Homo sapiens: one gene and its partners. The protein of the gene in region 1 purifies or fractionates together with the protein of each later gene. This does not show direct contact. Each region holds a gene or a part of one and is shown in the gene's direction. Other genes may lie near its edges.

What was found.
Region 2: the proteins of SLC5A8 (region 1) and MTX3 purify together in Homo sapiens (affinity purification with mass spectrometry; 2 studies listed by BioGRID and IntAct, with this or other methods). This does not show direct contact.
Region 3: the proteins of SLC5A8 (region 1) and RAB3B purify together in Homo sapiens (affinity purification with mass spectrometry; 2 studies listed by BioGRID and IntAct, with this or other methods). This does not show direct contact.

The regions. Positions count from the first base shown.
Region 1 is NC_000012.12:101,165,222-101,172,253, reverse strand, and holds part of SLC5A8 (sodium-coupled monocarboxylate transporter 1), read left to right. Parts: intron 1-4,071; coding exon 4,072-4,158; intron 4,159-5,391; coding exon of another isoform or gene 5,392-5,406; exon of another isoform or gene 5,407-5,545; intron 5,546-5,554; coding exon 5,555-5,760; intron 5,761-7,032. UniProt on the Homo sapiens protein: Acts as an electrogenic sodium (Na(+)) and chloride (Cl-)-dependent sodium-coupled solute transporter, including transport of monocarboxylates (short-chain fatty acids including L-lactate, D-lactate, pyruvate, acetate, propionate, valerate and butyrate), mocarboxylate drugs (nicotinate, benzoate, salicylate and 5-aminosalicylate) and ketone bodies (beta-D-hydroxybutyrate, acetoacetate and alpha-ketoisocaproate), with a Na(+):substrate stoichiometry of between 4:1 and 2:1.
Region 2 is NC_000005.10:79,976,216-79,981,294, reverse strand, and holds the end of MTX3 (metaxin-3), read left to right. Parts: 3' UTR 1-4,579; downstream 4,580-5,079.
Region 3 is NC_000001.11:51,931,701-51,938,732, reverse strand, and holds part of RAB3B (ras-related protein Rab-3B), read left to right. Parts: intron 1-1,320; coding exon 1,321-1,439; intron 1,440-5,290; coding exon 5,291-5,415; intron 5,416-7,032. UniProt on the Homo sapiens protein: The small GTPases Rab are key regulators of intracellular membrane trafficking, from the formation of transport vesicles to their fusion with membranes.

The DNA.
Region 1 (7,032 bases):
CTGGCAAGACCTTTACTGGTATATTTGCCTAGGGGTCTCTTGGGCCACCACTGTTCCTGCAGCCAGTGCCTCCTAGAGACACTTGGTGCCCCAGCTGTGCCTGACAGCCATCTGGAATGGACAACACCTTGAACTTTGGCTTCATCGGGCCGTGTTCAAGATCACGATTTTGGATCTTTGACAGCACCTCAGCACACACAGTGTCCCCAGACCTAATTGCTTAGTTCTGTGTCCTCCTTATCCTTCTGTTCCATTTTCACCTGTCATTGCTCTGTAATCAAGCAACTCTAAGCCTGCTACCACTGAGTCCATTCAACTCCTTTCACCTGCTCATGTAATCGTGTTTCCAAGCCCCAGTGTGCCCGTGTTCTTTTGCTGCTACTCCGGGTGGCCTGACTTTCCACATCCAACTGTGGCTTCTCCAGACCTATTCACCAATTACTTGGCACTGAGGTCACTGACAGCCTCCACCACATTTTGGCCACCCACTGAGCAGCTAACCTTCCAGCCTGCTGGGCATGCCTTCATTGGCCTGCCACACATCCATTGCTTCCCGTCCAGACTTGGTCGCTACCTGTCCTCCACTCTTCCCCCATCATTGGCGAGTCTGCCCCAAAGCCACAGCCGAACCCCATTCTCATGATCTCCCCTAACTGCTCAGCTGGACACTAGATCTACTGTATCCTCTCTGTGATGATACAGTTCATTTCCAGGTTTTTCCAAGGGCGCCACCAACTCCTACTCACCGTCCTACAGAAGATCCATTTCTCAAGATTTGACTGACCATGGAGCGCACTTTCAAACTTGGGCAGCCTCTCAATTATTGACCCCCTCAGGGTCAGGGGTGGAGTGTGGTATACAATGAGATATATTATGGCTATAAGATTAATGATAGGCATAAGGCCACTCAAGCAACTCAGAGGGTCAGTCCTATCTGTCAAACTTAGCAGTATGAAGCAACCTGGCCGGGGATTTCCAACCAGATTTCCAGGAGACCAGGTCACCTCAGCACGATGCAATTTTCACAAACCTTGGAACAAAGCTTACCCTTACAAGCATAGCTTAATCTCTCTTTGTGAACAAAACACCTGGTAACTGACCTGGATTGAATACAAGTATAAGAAAGGAGGAAGGATCCCCTAAACTCTGAGAAAGGTCTCTAGATGAAAACCCTCCTGGTCTGTCAGTCATCTAACCTGTGACTAAATCTGGCCCACGACACCATCCTGCTCCTGCTATTCTTCTGGTAAGAGCACTGCCAGAATAAAATGCATGAGCATCAGACGGTGTACAAGACTCAACAATGATGCAAAGCGAACTCAAGGGAAGAGGCTTCCCTGGGAAGCTGGTTAACTAGGACCACCCGAAACACGCGAGCACCACAGGGTGGAATTCACTGACATCATGGAGGAGGTGGCTTTGTCACTGCTGGGCCATGGTGAAAGTCCCGATTCTCCACTAGGCCTCCCATGTCATTGCCAGCAGGGAGGCAAAGGGTGCCTGGTGACAGTCTGGGGGGATGGAATCTAGGCTGGCATGGGTGTGGGTGGGGTGAACAGATTATTCTGTGGTGTTCGGATGGAATGGAGCGGTTGGGGTCTAAGAGTTTTCTATCTTCCTAGGCTGCTCCTTTCCTGGCCCTGTGTCTAGAGAGAGAACAGGATTTTGTGAGGGCTTTTTATCTTTTTAAAGTTTTTTTGCCTGTGTCTGTTGCCATTTCCAGGCTGGCTGGCTTCTTCAGTTCTCAGGCTGGGATACATGAAGCAAAAAGAAAACTTAGGGAACTCACCCTGTACCATTCTTCAGGTCCAGGGTCCCTAGCGGGCTGCCTTCTTTGCACCTTTCAGAGTCTTCTTATGTTTATTTTATATGGAATGTCAGGATTTTTAATTTTATTAGTAGGAGGAATAGAGAAACATATGTTTATCTTCTCAGAAGTAGAAATACTTCATTAAAAAAAATTTGTTTATTTACCTGAAGGGTCTTTCACCTCCTGTGGCGTTTGCTCTTCTGATTAGAGAGCATTTTTGTGTTGGAAAGCTCCCTCCTGTTCCTGTGGAGCTGTGGGCCTGGAGAGGACAGACCAATCTTTACAACAGTGTCTTCTTCCTGAACCCTGTGGGCACCTCACTGTCTTCAACACGCAGGCCTTGGCATAGACTTCTCCCTCTGCCTGCAACACCTTCCTCTCTACCTCGTCCACTGCCTAAGCCTTAGTTATTCTTCAGTTTTCATTTTAACACATTACTTATTTAAAGAGACTTTTCCTATTACCTGGATACATTTGCATTCCCTTCTGCTAAATGTTTCTAGAAGCACCTTGTACTTTCTTTATCATCTCCATTATCAAACTGTATTACAGTTATTTATTTAGTGTCTGTTTTACTGAATAGCCTGTAATTCATGAAGGTGGGGAAGATGACTTCGTTGTTCAATCCTGTATCAAATATCTGGTTCCTACTGCAGTGCCCAGGACAAAGCAAGACATTAACAACTTTAGCTTGAATATTAACTAATAATGTAGTTAGGCTCATAAATATCCTATTATCTGATGACCCCAAGTGCTCCCTGAAATTTCCTTGGCCACTTGGGCTGCTCCTCTGGGATCCTGGACCTCCCCTTGACCTAGAAACTTAAAGGCTAGTACTGGCACAGCAGGGGTCCTCCAGGATCTTTCTTCAGTCCTAAGGCTTGGGGCCATTCTGGTTGGTTGTTGTTTAGGACATAGCAGTTGTAAAATAGTTTGACCCCATCCCTGATTATATGAATGAATGAATTAGATCCAGAAGCTCCAAGCCTGCCCAGCACTCCTAAACCACAGCCAGTCATACAGAATTTGCTTTCTTCATAGTCTGCATTAGTGCCTGGAGCTCTTATTGTGGTTGATTCCCCTTTTTCCATATATCAGCTATGGCCTGATTATATACAATGACATGTTCTAGCAAAGTCATCATAACTCCAAGCCAGTTCATCCTTGCTTCATCTCTAGCCAAGGTCTTATTTCCTCTTGTAATCTTTTTTGGGTGTCTTTGTTATGTCTCCAAAACTGCTCACAGATCACACAGTCATCACTTGCTTTGTGGGTCATATGACGTCTTGCAGTGAAGTCTATCTCCCTTCTGACTGGACTGTGTGTAAACTGACTCAGGATCACATCCTTGAGTCCGCATCCTTTTAAACACTAGTTCTCCTCTCTACTCAGTACCACATCCTTTTCTTCTTCCATGAAGTAGGCCTATTTAAAACAACAACGACAACAAGAAGCACTATTTCCTCTAATATTTCCCTGACTTGGTATTTTCTCTTTGATTCATTCATTCTGCTCTATTAAACCCCTTTACTCTCTGGACAAACCAGTGATTCCCTGCTCTTCTTTTATGGTTGTGTCCATTCTTAAGAACTGGGCATTAGATTATTGGGAACGTATATCTCTTGGAAGCTTCATTTAGTTGCTTTGCCTCATGCGATGTTTGCACTGTAAATCTTTTTTACTATCATGGATTTGATATCTCTACATCAAAGCAAAGGTTGCAGTTATCTAATTAGATTTTAAATCTATTTCTACATGATTTGATCAGTCTTTTTAAAATCGTATTTCTCATTCTAGTTTCATCCTTAGGGAATCAAATCAGGAATGGCAAATGGGTTTCATCCTCCTCTCTGGTCACATAGCAGTACTCGTCCACCGTTATGAGAGGATTTTGAGATTATCAAAGCACAAAGGAGTGCTGTGATTTATAAACACCTGCAAGAGCAATGCTAAGAGGAGAGGTATCATTCATGATTTATACATTCACATAGGCACTACCATTGTCGCAGACCTCTCTATCTTCTTTGTGTTGTGTGGCCTTTTTTGAGGCTACTTGCAGAAACAGATGGATCCTTGAGACTGAGATGCAGAAACTTGTAAGTTCTAATGACTTCTTTTCCAGTGATAAGGCTATCATGACTGAAACTATGATTTTCAGAAGGAGGCCGAATACTTTAAGTCATTATCCTGATGAAATGACTTTGAAATATTTGAGTTTCGATTTGAGATTGCTAATTGCTGACGTTGTATTATTTTTGTAGGCAGCACTCAGCGTATTTGGTATGGTTGGTGGACCACTTATGGGCCTGTTCGCTTTGGGCATTTTGGTTCCCTTTGCCAACTCAATTGTAAGTACAAAGAATGAATATGCTTGAGGATTACTTTTTGAACTATACTAGCAGCTCTACACTTTTTTCTCAGTTGGTTCCTTTGAGATTTGTCATTAGCTACTTGTCTTGATGACTTAAATTATTTCTGTTGACTTTGGTGGAGTGTACAAGGAAGTACTATGTATGGGGACCCTAAATGTGTGAAGCTCAATGGAAACTTCCAGAACCATATAGGGCAATTTTAAATATTCATAATATAACTAAAGGAGCAACATTTTTATGCACGTACCTACTTGCCCTTCTCAAAAATTAATAGCTAGGATTTAAAAGAGATCAATAGGCTCAGAGATGAGAGATTTAAGGGCAGAAAACTTAGGATTTCTGTGAATAGCCATAGCACAGCAAAGAGAAGGAACACAATCTTACCACCTTGGCCAGGAATTTTCTACTCCTGACATTTAAAGCTGTAGCTCCCACAACATGATTTAGCCCCAAAGGGGTGATCATAATTGGGAATATTTTCCAGAAAGACGTAATATCTCTGTCCTTCTACCTAGACATATCTGTGCTTAGAAGTGCTAACTTTTGTTTGGAATAAATGAGCTAGAAATTATTTCTCTGAAACCCAGAAGAAAGTCCACTGGTTCAGTCTGGCTATAAGATGTAGTTCAGGAAAAACTGATAATGTATGTGCAGTCGCTTCAGATATAGAATAGCCATAGAACTCTGACTTCACATTTGGAATTCTATTTTCCTTATAAGGCATTAGGAATTGGTAAGGCAGATATTAATAAGGACTATTGTGGTTATTATTTATTATCCTCAATGAAATGTCATATGAAAAGCTGCTTTTGTAGGAATTAATCACAATGAAAGAGATTTGTTTGTGTCCACCTCAGAATGTTGAAGCTTGGATTAGATTCTTTGCGTGATGAAATGCATTAGTTTGTTAAGTATTAGAAAAATGTATTTAAAAATCAACTTTTGATATTTGGCATTTGTTGCCAGCGTGTATTTCCTCCGGAAGAGCTGTAGCTGACTAAGCTAACATGTCCTTTTCTGGGGGCGGTAACGGAAGAATAACATACTATTCTTCCTGCCATAAACAGTATCTTTTTTTTTTTTAAACCATGTCCAGGTTTTTCACCAGCAGATTATCTGCCTTCCTTAAAAGTGGCCTTTCTCACTCCTTTTTCTCTCCCTGCCTCAATACCTTTCATTCATTTATTCACTTGTTCATTTATTCAATAGATTTTTATGGGCTGAGCACTATCTTGGGAGGAGAGAGCGTTGAATGTTTCTGCCCTTGTGAGTTTTATAATTTCGTGCCATGTTGAACTTGGCTTTCTAATATTAATTTTGACATCAAAGCAAATTGTATTATTTTTCTTTTAAAGGCATTCTTGTTTTACAGGGAGCACTTGTTGGTCTGATGGCTGGATTTGCCATTTCTCTATGGGTTGGAATTGGAGCTCAAATATATCCTCCACTTCCTGAGAGAACATTGCCATTGCACCTTGATATCCAAGGCTGTAACAGCACCTACAATGAGACAAATTTGATGACAACCACAGAAATGCCATTTACTACTAGTGTTTTTCAAATATACAATGTTCAAAGGTATTGAATTAAGTTTTATTACATTATACTTTAAAAAATTTACGCAACAAGTAGAGAACCCCACTTGCTTTTTGTCTTGCTTACAACACTGTGATTTTGCCTAATTCTGAAATGAGTAAAACCCATGTGGTTAGCTATAGTATTTTCTGCAGCGGTAACAAAAAATGTCATATTTTCATAATTTCTCTAGAAATTTCTGCCTTGTCTACAGATCTAAGAAAACTTAAATATTAATGAGAAACTTCTGTTATGTGTAAACTCTCCTAAACACCAGCTCTTAGCTGCATGAAGAATTATCTTTGTCTTGGAAAAACTTTTAAAATGGAAAGCACAATTATAGAATAAATATTGCTTATATAGTCTTAGAAAGATAGATTTTACTGACCAAAAGCTACAATTATTTAAACATGTTAAATAACTGCCATTTGTTCAGTTGAAGATTCCAAATCTTTAAAGCATTAGAAGTGATTGCAGCTGTGATCTTCATGCTACAGATTTCAGTCATGCAGTACACTTTGGAGCCTCTAAATGCTGAAGTTGTCTGATTTAACGTACTGAAATAGTGGGTAGAGGCATGCTTTATTGTACAGTGAATGTGAGGTCAAGACTTTCTTTAGTGGATATATAAGTGTCCAGCTTTAAAGCACAAACCCTGTGAATACGTTCAAGGAATGCAAAGATGATGCCATTGCCCCTAGAGTATTGCCCCAGTGCCAGCTTATCTGGAATGACATCAATATAGTCATACCTTTGGGGTCAAGACACGGCATACCCCTCTTAAAATGGACACACTCCTGAGAGAAGGAACGTGATCATACATATAGCCATTATTAGCAATTTGTGTTCTGGAGAGAATTCAGCTATGAGAAAGCTAGCCAGTGGGACTTCCAGGGGCGTTCCAGGCAGGTAAGCTGTGTATGGTAGAGTGGAAAGGTAGTTCCAGAGCCTGAGGCGTATTTGAGGGAAGTTTTACTAGGTGAGGTGCTGTGGAGAGAGGGGCAAGGACATGTGGAGAGCAGTCTGGACAGGCATGAAAGCACTAATGGGAGGGGACTGGGAGAGTCATCAGAGTCAGAAAGGGAGAAAAGATTAATTGAAGGTTAAGTGAGAAGACACAGGATGTTCTTCTTGTTTTATGATTTTGCTTAGCGTTTTCCTAATTATGTAAATATTTGCCCTTAAAAGTCTAAGGCAAAATGGTTATTTGGATTCCTGAAACAAATAAATTAGCTGAAGTTTATTCTATGCCTGGTACCATAATAGTTTTATATG
Region 2 (5,079 bases), on another chromosome or scaffold:
TTAGTTGAGCTATTTATGTATAAGTAAATGAGATGACAGGAAGCTGTAACTGAGCACAAAGTACTTTAGGGAGCAGCCACACATACAGGAAGCTCTTAGAAAAGAACTTTTTTTTTTTTTTGAGACAGAGTTTCACTCTTGTTGCCCAGGCTGGAGTGCAGTAGCGCAGTCTCGGCTCACTGCAACCTCTACCTCCTGGGTTCAAGCAAGTCTCCTGTCTCAGCCTCCCAAGTAGCTGGGATTACAGGCATGTGCCACCATGCCCAGCTAATTTTGTTTTTTTTTTAGTCGAGACGGGGTTTCACCATGTTGCTCAGGCTGGTCTTGAACTCCTGACCTCAAGTGATTCACCTGCCTCGGCCTCCCAAAGTGCTGGGATTACAGGCGTGAGCCACTGCGCCCGGCCAAAAAGAACATTTTGTCAATCTGAACAGAGCACAGAACATTTTTTCAGACTGAACAGACTGTTGGACCAGCCTGTCATGATATGTTTTAGATAAAGTTTGAGTGAGTTCATTGGGATAAATGGTCCACAATCTTAAACAGAATACTGTGAGCCAATGCCTTTTGGAAGTAATGGTGGAGGATAATATGATTAAAGGGAACATGCTTGTGTTTATTTTTGTTGGTAGTATATGATTAGAAAAACTAGATAATTCCCATAAGATGAAGATCTTCCATGAACAAACTACCATCAATCATCCATCAGATTGATTTTTTTTTTTTTTTTAAGTAACACTAAAGAAGCTGTAAAGAACATTGAAGGTGGTCATTCCTTCAAAACTGTGTTTTGACCACACAAGGTGGGCATTAACAAACCAAATTTCAACTTAAGTTTGTTTGTATTATATTGGGGGTGCTGCGAGACTGGAGATTTTATAAAAGCAAGCATTTTTATTTCCATTTATAATTTCTATTCAATATTGCTAGATATATTAACATGAAGGAATGGGGAAGCTTATTTCAATCAAAGCTAAAATTTTCAGAAGTCTGTAAAAATGGAAAAACACCATTGAAAGAGGCAGAAACAGGTAAGGGGGATAGTATCTTAGAAAACCTGTTGGTTAAGGCAGCTGCATGTGATAAAAGTGGTACTTGAACTTGGTAGTGTTTCCTTAGAACCTCCTCCAAAAATATGCATTTACCAGGCTTGTTACAATTTTTTGACAGTTTTTCATCAACTGTCAAAAACTTCAACCCTTTTAAAACCTAGATATAAATGCTTACATGTAAAGAAAGGAAGCTAAGCAGTGGGTACCTGGGATCTCTCTGAACTATTTTTATAACTTCTTGTGAGTCTTAAGTATTTCAAAATAAAAGTGGTTTTAAAGTAAATTCATAGATTAAATGTATCATTATCTATATATAAACCATGATTTAAAACTTTAATTTTCTAAACATAGTATTCAACTTAGTTGAATAAATATATGATAGAAGTTAAATAGAATTTTTATTTCATTCTTAAGAAAAACTCATGTTTGTAACAAATGATATCTAAAGATCTATTTTGCCTTACCAGAAAAGAAAAAAAAAACCCTAAAACCAAAAACTCCTTTTCCCTAGGAAGTCAAAAATGCTGTGATTTAAAATATCTAATTATATTTTTTTCTTTCTATGGTAGTGGGGTTTACTTCTGAGGATAAAATATTTTGAAAAAGCTCTGTCCCTTGACATGGTAGTTCTCCCGTGCCTTGTACTTGTTCTCTCTCCATATGCACAGTGTGACAAGATGCTCACCTTTAATGAAGAAGGTGTAGCTTTTCGTTTTAAGCTGTAATTGTCTTTGTCTTGATTTGGCTATTTTTATAACTGAAATCCTGAGCAACAGAGATAATTTGGGTGGTAATGATCATCTTTTGTATATGTTCTTGATGTTAAGAAATATTTTTTGCTGCCATTCAGCTTTGTGGAATTTATGTTTACTTTTCAATATTTTCATATTTCTTAACCAGATTTTAAAGAAATTTGTTGTTAGTTACGTGAAATCAAAGGTCAGGTCAGTAAGCCCATTATCCTCAAACTTGAAGTTTCGTTGGATGTTCAAAATGCTAATTTTTGCAGAGATATAAGGATAAATTAGTTTTAGTTTGTGTTCTTAAGGGTTTGCAAAATAATTTGGCTCCCAAACTCTTGTTGGGGTGTAGTGTTTGCTAGGAGCCCAGGATACCTGCCCTGGACTTAAATTGTGATTGAAGTGGAGAGGTACTCTAGGAATTTAAAAAGACACAAAATTATTTTTTTCCAGACTAGTGTGCCATGGATTTCTGATAAGAATTAACATTCTTGAACAAAGGTATCAGAAAGGGTAACTCGAGTTGAAGGTTTGTGAATAGAAGGGGAAATGTGATAGAAGATTATTCAGAACAAAATAAGTAGACAAAATAACAAAAGACAGGAAAATAAGTCTCTTTGTATCCTTATTAATCATTTGAAATTATGCTATAATATTTTTTAAAACTCACCTGTTTGGTTCTGGGTGAAGCAGTTCCTGAAGGAGTGTTTTGTCAGAATATATTGTTAGGAGAATAGAGGGTTCTGTGGCCAAGTAAGTTTGGGAAATAGTGGGTTAGACAAAGTTGAGTTACTGTTGGCCTTTCAGACCTTTGATACGCTAATGTGCATTTTAAATCTCCAAGAAGCACCTCTATTTTATACATCATTTCCCTAATTTATTTTAATATGGATTTCTTGTTTTTGTTTTCTTGAGACGGAGTCTTGGTCTTGTCACCCAGGCTGGAGTGCAGTGGCACGATCTCGGCTCACTACAACCTCCGCCTCCCAGGTTCAAGCGATTCTCCTGCCTCAGCCTCCCAATTTACTGGGATTACAGGCACCTGCCACCACGCCCAGCTAATTTTTGTATTTTTAGTAGAGATGGGGTTTCACCATGTTGACCAGGCTGATTTTGAACTCCTGACCTCAGGTGATTCTGCCCGCCTCACCCTCCCACAGTGCTGGAATTATAGGTATGAGCCACTGTCCCCGGCCAGATTTTTTTAAAAGTAGGTATCTTGTGGGATTTATGTTCTGAGAGATACACCTAAGGAAATGCTGCCCTACAGTGTTTTTGCTAGTTCATACTCATTACAAAGGTTTCTTGTTGTTGGGTGCCCCTCTAGCCAGTGGTAGTAAAATGGGAAGAGACAGGTCAAGACTCCCTTGGACCATGGCATTGAGAGAGGGATGGCTGTCGGCATAGATATGTTGGTTATTTAGGCATTTGTGAGGGAGGCCCCTGGCTCTTCCAGCCTGTTTCCTTAGGATCCCAGTTGGCCGGGAACAGCTGTACAAGGGTCTGCTGAACTGGTGGTTTCAGCAGACTACCCAGTTCCTAAGCATCCATGAGACAGAGGGAACCAACTTGTATTTCCAGAACAATTTTCCAAACCTTTTCTGGCTGTACTTTAAAAGTGCCAAAAAGGCAATGGGTGTTTATGACACTAAAGTCACATACAAGCTAGTATGATACATACATCATAGAAAGCTTATAGTTGCTCAGTGACAAAGCAAAGGAAGTTTAATATTTTCCAGTTTTGTTCATTACCGAAGACAGTCTACGGTTCATAGTTTTCACTAAATTCTAAGCAGATTCTATATCCTAAAACATTTAAACCTCACTAGGCCTGCAATTTTGAGAGGGTTAGCTAAATATGTTTGGTATCACTTCAGAGTCTAAAACCAGATTACTAATCGTGTGTAAGGAGGCATTTTGTGTGTCTTTGCAATGTATACAATTGGATTATTTGGAACACCATTTTGAATGTGTATTTGAGAGAAAGCTCGCCTGTGGGTTTTGAGTTGTGGTGTAATGGTGAACATGTAGCCACGTGAAAGGCCGTTGGATCTTTGTTCTGATTCTTCAGTCGTCTTCTTGCAAATTCAGAGAAATGTCTTTTAATCATTTCGTTTACATATCCCAGATCCTTGGAAATCATGAAAAATAACTTGCCAGAGTTTGCATCAGCCCTCAGTAAGTCATGAACCATAGAGAAGGTCATGGGGCCATTTATTCTTTGGACCACTGGCTACTTCTGAAGTTCTGGCTTCCTTCTCTCTAGGAGGAGTCGTGTATTCAAGCTTTTAAGTTAAATGCATAAAAATGAGTTTTACTTCTCTTCTGACTTGATTTTTAATTTTATGAAATGGGAAATAATGTTTTTCCATTTTTCTGTTCATTTTGAAGTGGGAATTTGAGGTGTTTGTAATGTCATGTTACTGTTCTGAAAGATTGACAGTAAAGAAGACAAGAAATATATGTATGTAGTATGCATATTAGTTTTGTCCCACCAAGCCTATCTTTGAATGGCAAACATTTTAAAAACATCTGTTCTAGTTGCACAACTACTCTAGCTTCTTTATAAAGTAAACAATCTTAAAGTAAGCAATGTTGGCCATAATTTCAATATTCTAGCCTTGCCGAGTGTGAATATATTTTACTCAGAGACTATGTACAAATACACTAAAGTGGTGATGGTGATCAATATTGTAAAGAATTTATTCTGATAAATGAGAAACTGGATATAATGTCAAAATAGCTATTTTCTCAATAAAAATCTCAAATCTCCTGACTGCTTATGAATTCTCGATTTAATGTTATTTATTCTTTGAGGTAAATCTTTTCATCGCGAAGAATTTTTTGCTGGTTGAATGTGGTTGTTCAGGGCTGGGACTGAGCTATAGACATAGTGGGTTTTTAAAAAATGTCCATTCTTTTTTTTTTTTTTTGAGACAGAGTTTTGCTCTTATCACCCAGGCTGGAGTGCAATGGTGTGAACTCGGCTCACTGCAACCTTCGCCACCTGGGTTCAAGCAATTCTCCTGCCTTAGCCTCCCAAGTAGCTGGGATTACAGGCACCTGCCACCTTACCCGGCTAAATTTTTTTTTTTTTTTTTTGGTATTTTTTTTTTTTTTTTTAAGTAGAGACGGGGTTTCACCATGTTGGCCAGGCTGGTCTTGAACTCCTGACCTCAGGTGATCCACCCGTCTCGGTCTCCCAGAGTGCTGGGATTACAGGCGTGAGCCACCGTGCCTGGCCAGAAAATGTCCATTCTTTCTGTTATGTGTTGAGACCACTTGTG
Region 3 (7,032 bases), on another chromosome or scaffold:
CTGCACTCCAGCCTGGGCCACACAGTGAGACCCTGTCTCAAAAAAAAAAAAAAAATTACATGAAGAAAATCAAAATCTCAGTAATTCTTGTCTCTTATTCAGAGAAAATCTCTATTAACCTTTTGATGTGTTTCTTCTATTTTTTTCTGTGCACATATAGTTATAAAACTAATACATCACACATACAAGTATTGTCTCATATCGTTAAATATTCTTACATACATGAACTTACATAAAAATTCTTACATTTTAACCATTCTCCTATTGTTGAATATATAAGTTGATGATATGTTTTCACTGTCTAGATAAAGTTTTAACAAATGTGTTTTTGTACATACATATTTGTCTGATTTTCTATTTTTATAGGGAAAATTTTTCTAATTTTGTGGGAAAAATTCCCAGAAGGAATATTTCTGGGTCAAAGAGTATGAACATTTTTAATGCTCTTAAGACTTCCAAATTGATTCCCAGAAAGGCTAAACCAAGTTCCACTCCCACAAGCAAGATGTGAATTTGTATATTTCACTGCATGCTTATCAATCATGGGAATTATTATTAAAAATAAGGGGCTGGGCACAGTGGCACAAAACCTTAATCCCAGCTACTCGGAGACTGAGGTGGGAGCATTGCTTCAGCCCAGAAATTCAAACTTGCAGTGAGCTATGATTGTGCCAGGGCTCTCAGCCTGGGCAACAGAGTAAGGCTTTGTCTTAAAAAAAAAAAAAAAAAAAAAAAAGAAACAAAAATAAGGTTAAAACTTTTTATGTAATAATTACCCACTCAACATTTCTTATGTGCTTGTTCATGCCTCTTGTCCACTTTTCCTTTAGGATTTTAATTATTCTTATTAAATTCTATGAGATTTAAAAAATCATTTTAATCTAGTCAGCAAGCACAATACAAGACACATAATAGATGCTCCTTAAATATGCCTTGGGTTGGGCGCGGTGGCTCACTCCTGTAATCCCAGCACTTTGGGAGGCCGAGGCGGGTGGATCACCTGAGGTCAGGAGTTCGAGACCTGCCTGACCAACATGGAGAAACCCTGTCTCTACTAAAAATACAAAATTAGCTGGGCATGGTGGTGCATGCTTGTAATCCCAGCCACTCGGGAAGCTGAGGCAGGAGAATCACTTGAACCTAGGAGGCAGAGGTTGCAGTGAGCTGAGATCGCGCCATGGCACTCCAGCCTGGGCAACAAGAGCAAAACTCCATCTCAAAAAAAAAAAATGTCTTGGGTTATTAGTTAATTGTCCTGGGGACTTTTTAGGAACCAAAGCAGACTTTCTAAGAGATTGTTTCTTTTCTTTTCCTGCCCAGGACACAGCTGGGCAGGAGCGGTACCGGACCATCACAACAGCCTATTACCGTGGGGCCATGGGCTTCATTCTGATGTATGACATCACCAATGAAGAGTCCTTCAATGCTGTCCAAGACTGGTATGAGACCCATATTCATTCATTCATTTAACAAACTGTTCATTAAAACCTAACATGTGCTAGGTCCTGTATTGTGTGCTGGGGAAGCCCAGATGAATCAGACATGGTTACTGGCCTCAGGAGTTTACAGACGAGAGCAGAAGACAGATCCATAAGCAGGAATGAAAATATCATGTGATAGGCCGGGTGCAGTGGCTCACGCCTGTAATCCCAGCACTTTGGGAGGCCGAGGCAGCCAGATCACCCGAGGTCAGGAGTTTGAGACCAGCCTAGCCAACATGGTGAAACCCCGTCTCTACTAAAAATACAAAAATTAGCCAGGCGTGGTGGCACGTGCCTATAATCCCAGCTACTCAGGAGGCTAAGGCAGGAGAATTGCTTGAACCTGGGAGGCGGAGGTTGCAGTGAGCTGAGATCACACCACTGCACTCCAGCCTGGGCAACAGAGTGAGACTCTATCTTAAAAAAAAAAAAAGAAAGAAAAGAAAAGAAAATGTGTGCTAGGTGCAGTGATGAAGCGAGGCATCAGGGCTGTGGGAACCCAGCAGAGGGCTCTCTGACCCAGTTTAGGGAGTCAGAGAAAGTGCCCTGGAGTTGCTGACACATATGCTGCATTTTGTAAGATGAACAGGAGTTAGCCCGAGGGACAAATGAATAAGGATGTTCCAGAAAATGAGTACAGATGTGCAAAGGTGAGAAGGTAGGTGCGAGTGTTGAAGGGCATAGGTCATGAAGGGTTTTGTGTGCTGCTATAAGGAGTTTGGATTCTGTCCCATAGGTGATGACGTATGAATTAGAAACCAACAGGTTCACATTTGTGTTTCAGGAAGATTACTGTAGCTCCAGTGGAGAGTGAATCCACATAGCACTTAAAGTTTATCCCTGGGCTGAGCCAGGTGTCCAGGAGCACATACAGTCCAAGTTCATCAAGGCTCAATATGCAATGGAAATCAGTACAGCACCCCAGAGTTGCAACCTCTGAGCAACTTATAGCTTTCTTCCTGGGGCACGATTCCCAGGAGAAGGGAGCCTGAGGGGAAGGACACATGAGAGGGAGGGCCAGGACCCAGTGTCCCTGCTCAGATGAGGATGGGGGAAGGTGGGACATCTGTGTGGTGGCTGTCCTTCAGAATCGGAGAGGCTGAGCAGACCAGGCACACAGCAGCAGTGCTGGCCAGTGCTGGGCTTGTCTCCTTCTCCCTTTTGCCTAATGGTGACCTTCGAGGACTTCGCTTCTCCCAGGGAGCAGTTGTCATAATTGTGTTGGCTTCACATACACAGCTTGAGCTGAGAGTGACCTTGTGGGCTGCCTGCTGCACTCCCCTGTTCTGACCAGCAGTTCAGGGTGTCATCAGCATGTCTGTCATTCCTGGGGGTCTGTGTTCTCCTTTTCTGCCTCCTGGTTATCCTCTTCTTCCTCCTTTCTGTCCCTTCCTTTTAAATAACTCTTTCTTCCCTCTACCTTGGGTCTTTCTCCTCTCCTTCCTCTGTTCTCTTCCCCTTCCCTTTACTCTCTCCACTCATCATTTTCCTCCCTTCCTCCCCTCTCCCTGCTCCTCCTCTTCTCTCTCATCACATCTCCCCTGAAGTGTCTCCACGCTGCCCATTTCCCTGTTGGCCTTGACCCCCTTCCCTTCCTCCCTCAGTCTCTGTTCATTCTGCCTCAGGAACACGGTGACTTTAACACCTGGTGACGATTCCTCCAAGAATAACCTGAGTTTGTTGCTAACCTGGGAGCTGAGAGGAAATGGGGTGGGAGAAGGGAGGAAGATGAAAGAAAGAGTAGCATGGGAGATAAGGAGAGCTGGCCCCAGTTACCTGCCTTGAGTCTGAAGACTGAGGGTCTATCTCTCCCAAGCCCTGGCCTTTGAGTTTTGTCTGTGGGTAACTTGGTCTCAGTCTCACCCCTACCTGCCATCCAAGCCCCAGTGCCCAGAATGGGGCCTGGTTTCCTGTGGGCCCACAAGAAGTGGTGGTTGAGTGAATTCCATCCTTTGAGGGAATGGCTTCTCACCATAAATGAGAAGGTTGGTGGTAAGATCAACTTTAAGAGCAGGGTCAGTAGTAGGTTCAGGTTGCAGTTAGGGTTGAGTTAGGTTGTCAGTGTCAGGGTAGAGTCAGATTCAAGATCTGCTTCAGGACTGACCATTCACTGGCTCGTTCATTTATCAGCATTCACTGACACCTTCTTCGCTGTGTGTTCTGTGCTGGGTATTGGCATCCCAAAGATGAATAGGCCGGTCCTTGCCCTCAGGGAGAGAGACAAATTCAGCCAAGTGTAATAGGTGTCATGGTGAACGTGCAGGAGACCAAAAGAGGAAGTAATCATTTCTACCTGATGGGGTCTTTGGGGAATGTTAGGCCCATCTCCACAAAAAGATGTCTTCATAATATAAGAGAGTCCTTTTTTATTTCCTCTTAAAATTTTGTTTTTAATTAAAGAAGTAATACATGCTCACTTTTAAAAATGTGAAAAGTACAGAAATTTGAAAAGGTTTTTTTTTTTTTTTTTTTTTTTGAGATGGAGTCTCGCTCTGTCACCCAGGCTGGAGTGTAGTGATGCGATCTTGGCTCACTGCAAGCTCCACCTCCCGGGTTCACGCCATTCTCCTGCCTCAGCTTCCTGAGTAGCTGGGACTACAGACGCCTGCCACCATGCCCAGCTAATTTTTTTTTTTTAATTTTTAGTGGAGACGGGGTTTCACCATGTTAGCTAGGATGGTCTCGATCTCCTGACCTCGTGGTCCGCCCACCTCGGCCTCACAAAGTGCTGGGATTACAGGCGTGGGCCAGCGCACCCGGCCAAAAAGTATTTTTTAAAAGTCTTATAATCATCTTATATGAAGGTAACCACTGCTGACATTTTGGTTCCTGCAAATAATCATAATCCGAGGCTTCAGGGAAGGTTTATGAATCACATAGGAGGAGGTGGAGGCTAAGTGGATCTAGGAGAAGCTTGAAGAGGCTCCCCTCAAGGTGTTGTGGGATCAGCACTGGGCCCTGGAGGATGAGTTAGTTGTGGGGAAGGACTTCCCAGTGTAGGCAAAAGCACAAGCCATGGAAGAGCTTTTGGGGAATGAGTAAAAAGGTTAGGGAGGCAGGAGAATGGGTAATGAGGCTGGAGAGACACAGCATGAGTGATCTTGAACTGAGGAATCTGGACTTGATCACATAGCTAGCTGGGGGCCAGAGAAGGCTTTTAAGAAAAGATTCATTGTGATCAAATACCTGTTTTAGAAAGACCTCTCTGCCCAGTGAGGAGAGGGATGGCCAGATATGGTAGAGGTGGACTTCAAAAAGATGGATGAGGTTTGCAGCTAGGGCTTAGGAGTCAGCATCTGTGACAGCCAGCAGGGACAGGTATCTGTCTGTCCTCAGCTGAATTAATTGGCAATAACTTGGATGTTGCTAGTCCTGTGGAAGAGAAACCATTTCTTCACACTTCACAGTTTTCTTTTTGTCATAGGAGGGTATGTGTCTTGGTCAGTTTGGGCTGCTATAACAAGAATACTATAGACTTGGTAGCTTAAATAACGGACATTTCTTTCTCACAGTTCTGGAGCTAGGAAGTCCAAGATCAAGGTGCCAGCAGCTCCAGTATCTGGAGACAGCCAGCTTCTTGTTGTATCCTCCCATGGCCAAGAGAGAAAGAGGGCTCTAGCCTCTTTCTCTTCTTATATGGACACATTTATTAGGACTCTAGCCTCATTGACATAATTACATCCCGAAGACTCCACCTCCAAATACCATTACATTGGGGATTAGGCTTCAACATGTAAATTTGGAGGTGGGGACACAGACATTCAGTCTATAGGAATATGATTAACATATCTCTTTCTATCTCATTTTAGGGCTACTCAGATCAAGACCTACTCCTGGGACAATGCACAAGTTATTCTGGTGGGGAACAAGTGTGACATGGAGGAAGAGAGGGTTGTTCCCACTGAGAAGGGCCAGCTCCTTGCAGAGCAGCTTGGTATGTACATGACACATGTATGTGCATGTGTGCATTTGTACACATGCTCATGAGAGTGGGGTAAACAGGGTACGAGTGTGTTTGTATTTATGACATTAGTGTTGTGATTGTGAATTATGTACCTATGTGATCTGTGTGTATTGTTTTATATTTGTATGAGGTACATATGGGCTTTGTGCTGTGAGTTTTAGATAATTCATCATTTTTGATATGTATATATTTTGTTATATTGAATGTGTAAATAAATTTTAAATTTATAAACTCTTTTTTTTTACCAGTTCCTTCCACAAAGGACTTGAGATATCTTATAAAAATGGTCACAATACAACAATAAAAATAAATAAGTAAGTGAGAAAATTGGAGCAAAGGGAAAGCAAGGGTGAGGGAAAAATAAGAGGAAGCTAGGGTAAGTATTAAGTTCTTGGACACCTGCAAGAGTTGGGGCCAAAATGTTGTCTTTGAGCTTCCTAGCAACCTTTGCCAAGAGGGAAACATAATCAGCTACATGGTTTAGAGTGTCCTAGTATAAAAACAAACCCATTATTCCAGAGAAGCACTACTCTTCATCATCAACTGTAGAGCAGACTCTGTATGCTGAATGTGACCATGTCTTGAATATCAAACATCCTTCCAGCACTGAGTATTTATATGCTGTTCTTACAGTTTATCTCAATGCAAATTCATGCTTCTCACCAAAACACAATTCACAACAAAAGTAATAGTATGAAGGAACAAAACTATGTGGTTTGAGTATGTAGCTCATCGGTGTCCTGACTTTTTCCAAGCTTAACATATTTTGATCCTTGTGCTCCTTTGAGGCCTAGGTGCCCAGGCATGTCTCAGTGGCCCCAAAGCAGAACTCTACCTACCTTTGCTTAAAAGAAGAGCTTTTATTTTATGTATTGGGGTCCAGGGTAAGGTTGCCTTACAAAAAGAGTTCCATGCCTGTAGGTTTGAAAGTTTGAAATCTTCCTCTAGAATAGATGTACTGCTTAGCTTTTAGACAGTCTCCCTAAGTATATCTCACATCCTTAGTGTTGTAAGTATTGAGGAGTGGAGAGTTTAAAGTCTCTGACAGTTTCTGAAGAACAGATATTTGGGCTTATAGGTGGGTAATCTGTATAAAATACAAGTGTGAATTGTGTGTTTTATATATTTGTATTATGAGTATGTGGGTGTGTGTGTGTTGTATACTTTTTTCTCCCCAAGGTGTCCTGTAAACTGTAGCAAACTATAAGTGCTTAATAAACAGGGAGGTTGGGTCATCTTGGGCCTTGCTGTCTCTACACTATCACAGAGGTTCTCAGAGTCCAGAAAGTGCCTCCATGTGGTCCATTGACCAATAAGCAAGTGATGAAGCCCACACCTGGTGAACTTTAGACGGTCCCTTTAGGCTTTCAACCTGTAGTCTCCCTGGAGGCTCCCAGCACTCTCCCTGGACTGACTATATTTCATCTGCTTGGAATGCTCTCTTCTACTCCCCATCTTCTACCCTCATCCAGCTGGTGAGACCCCACTCAGCTTTCAAAACAGCTTACACTTCACATCTTCTATGAAACCTTTCCCAGCCCCCTGCCAGAGCTCTTTATTTGTTCTCTCAATGCACCCCATACGTAA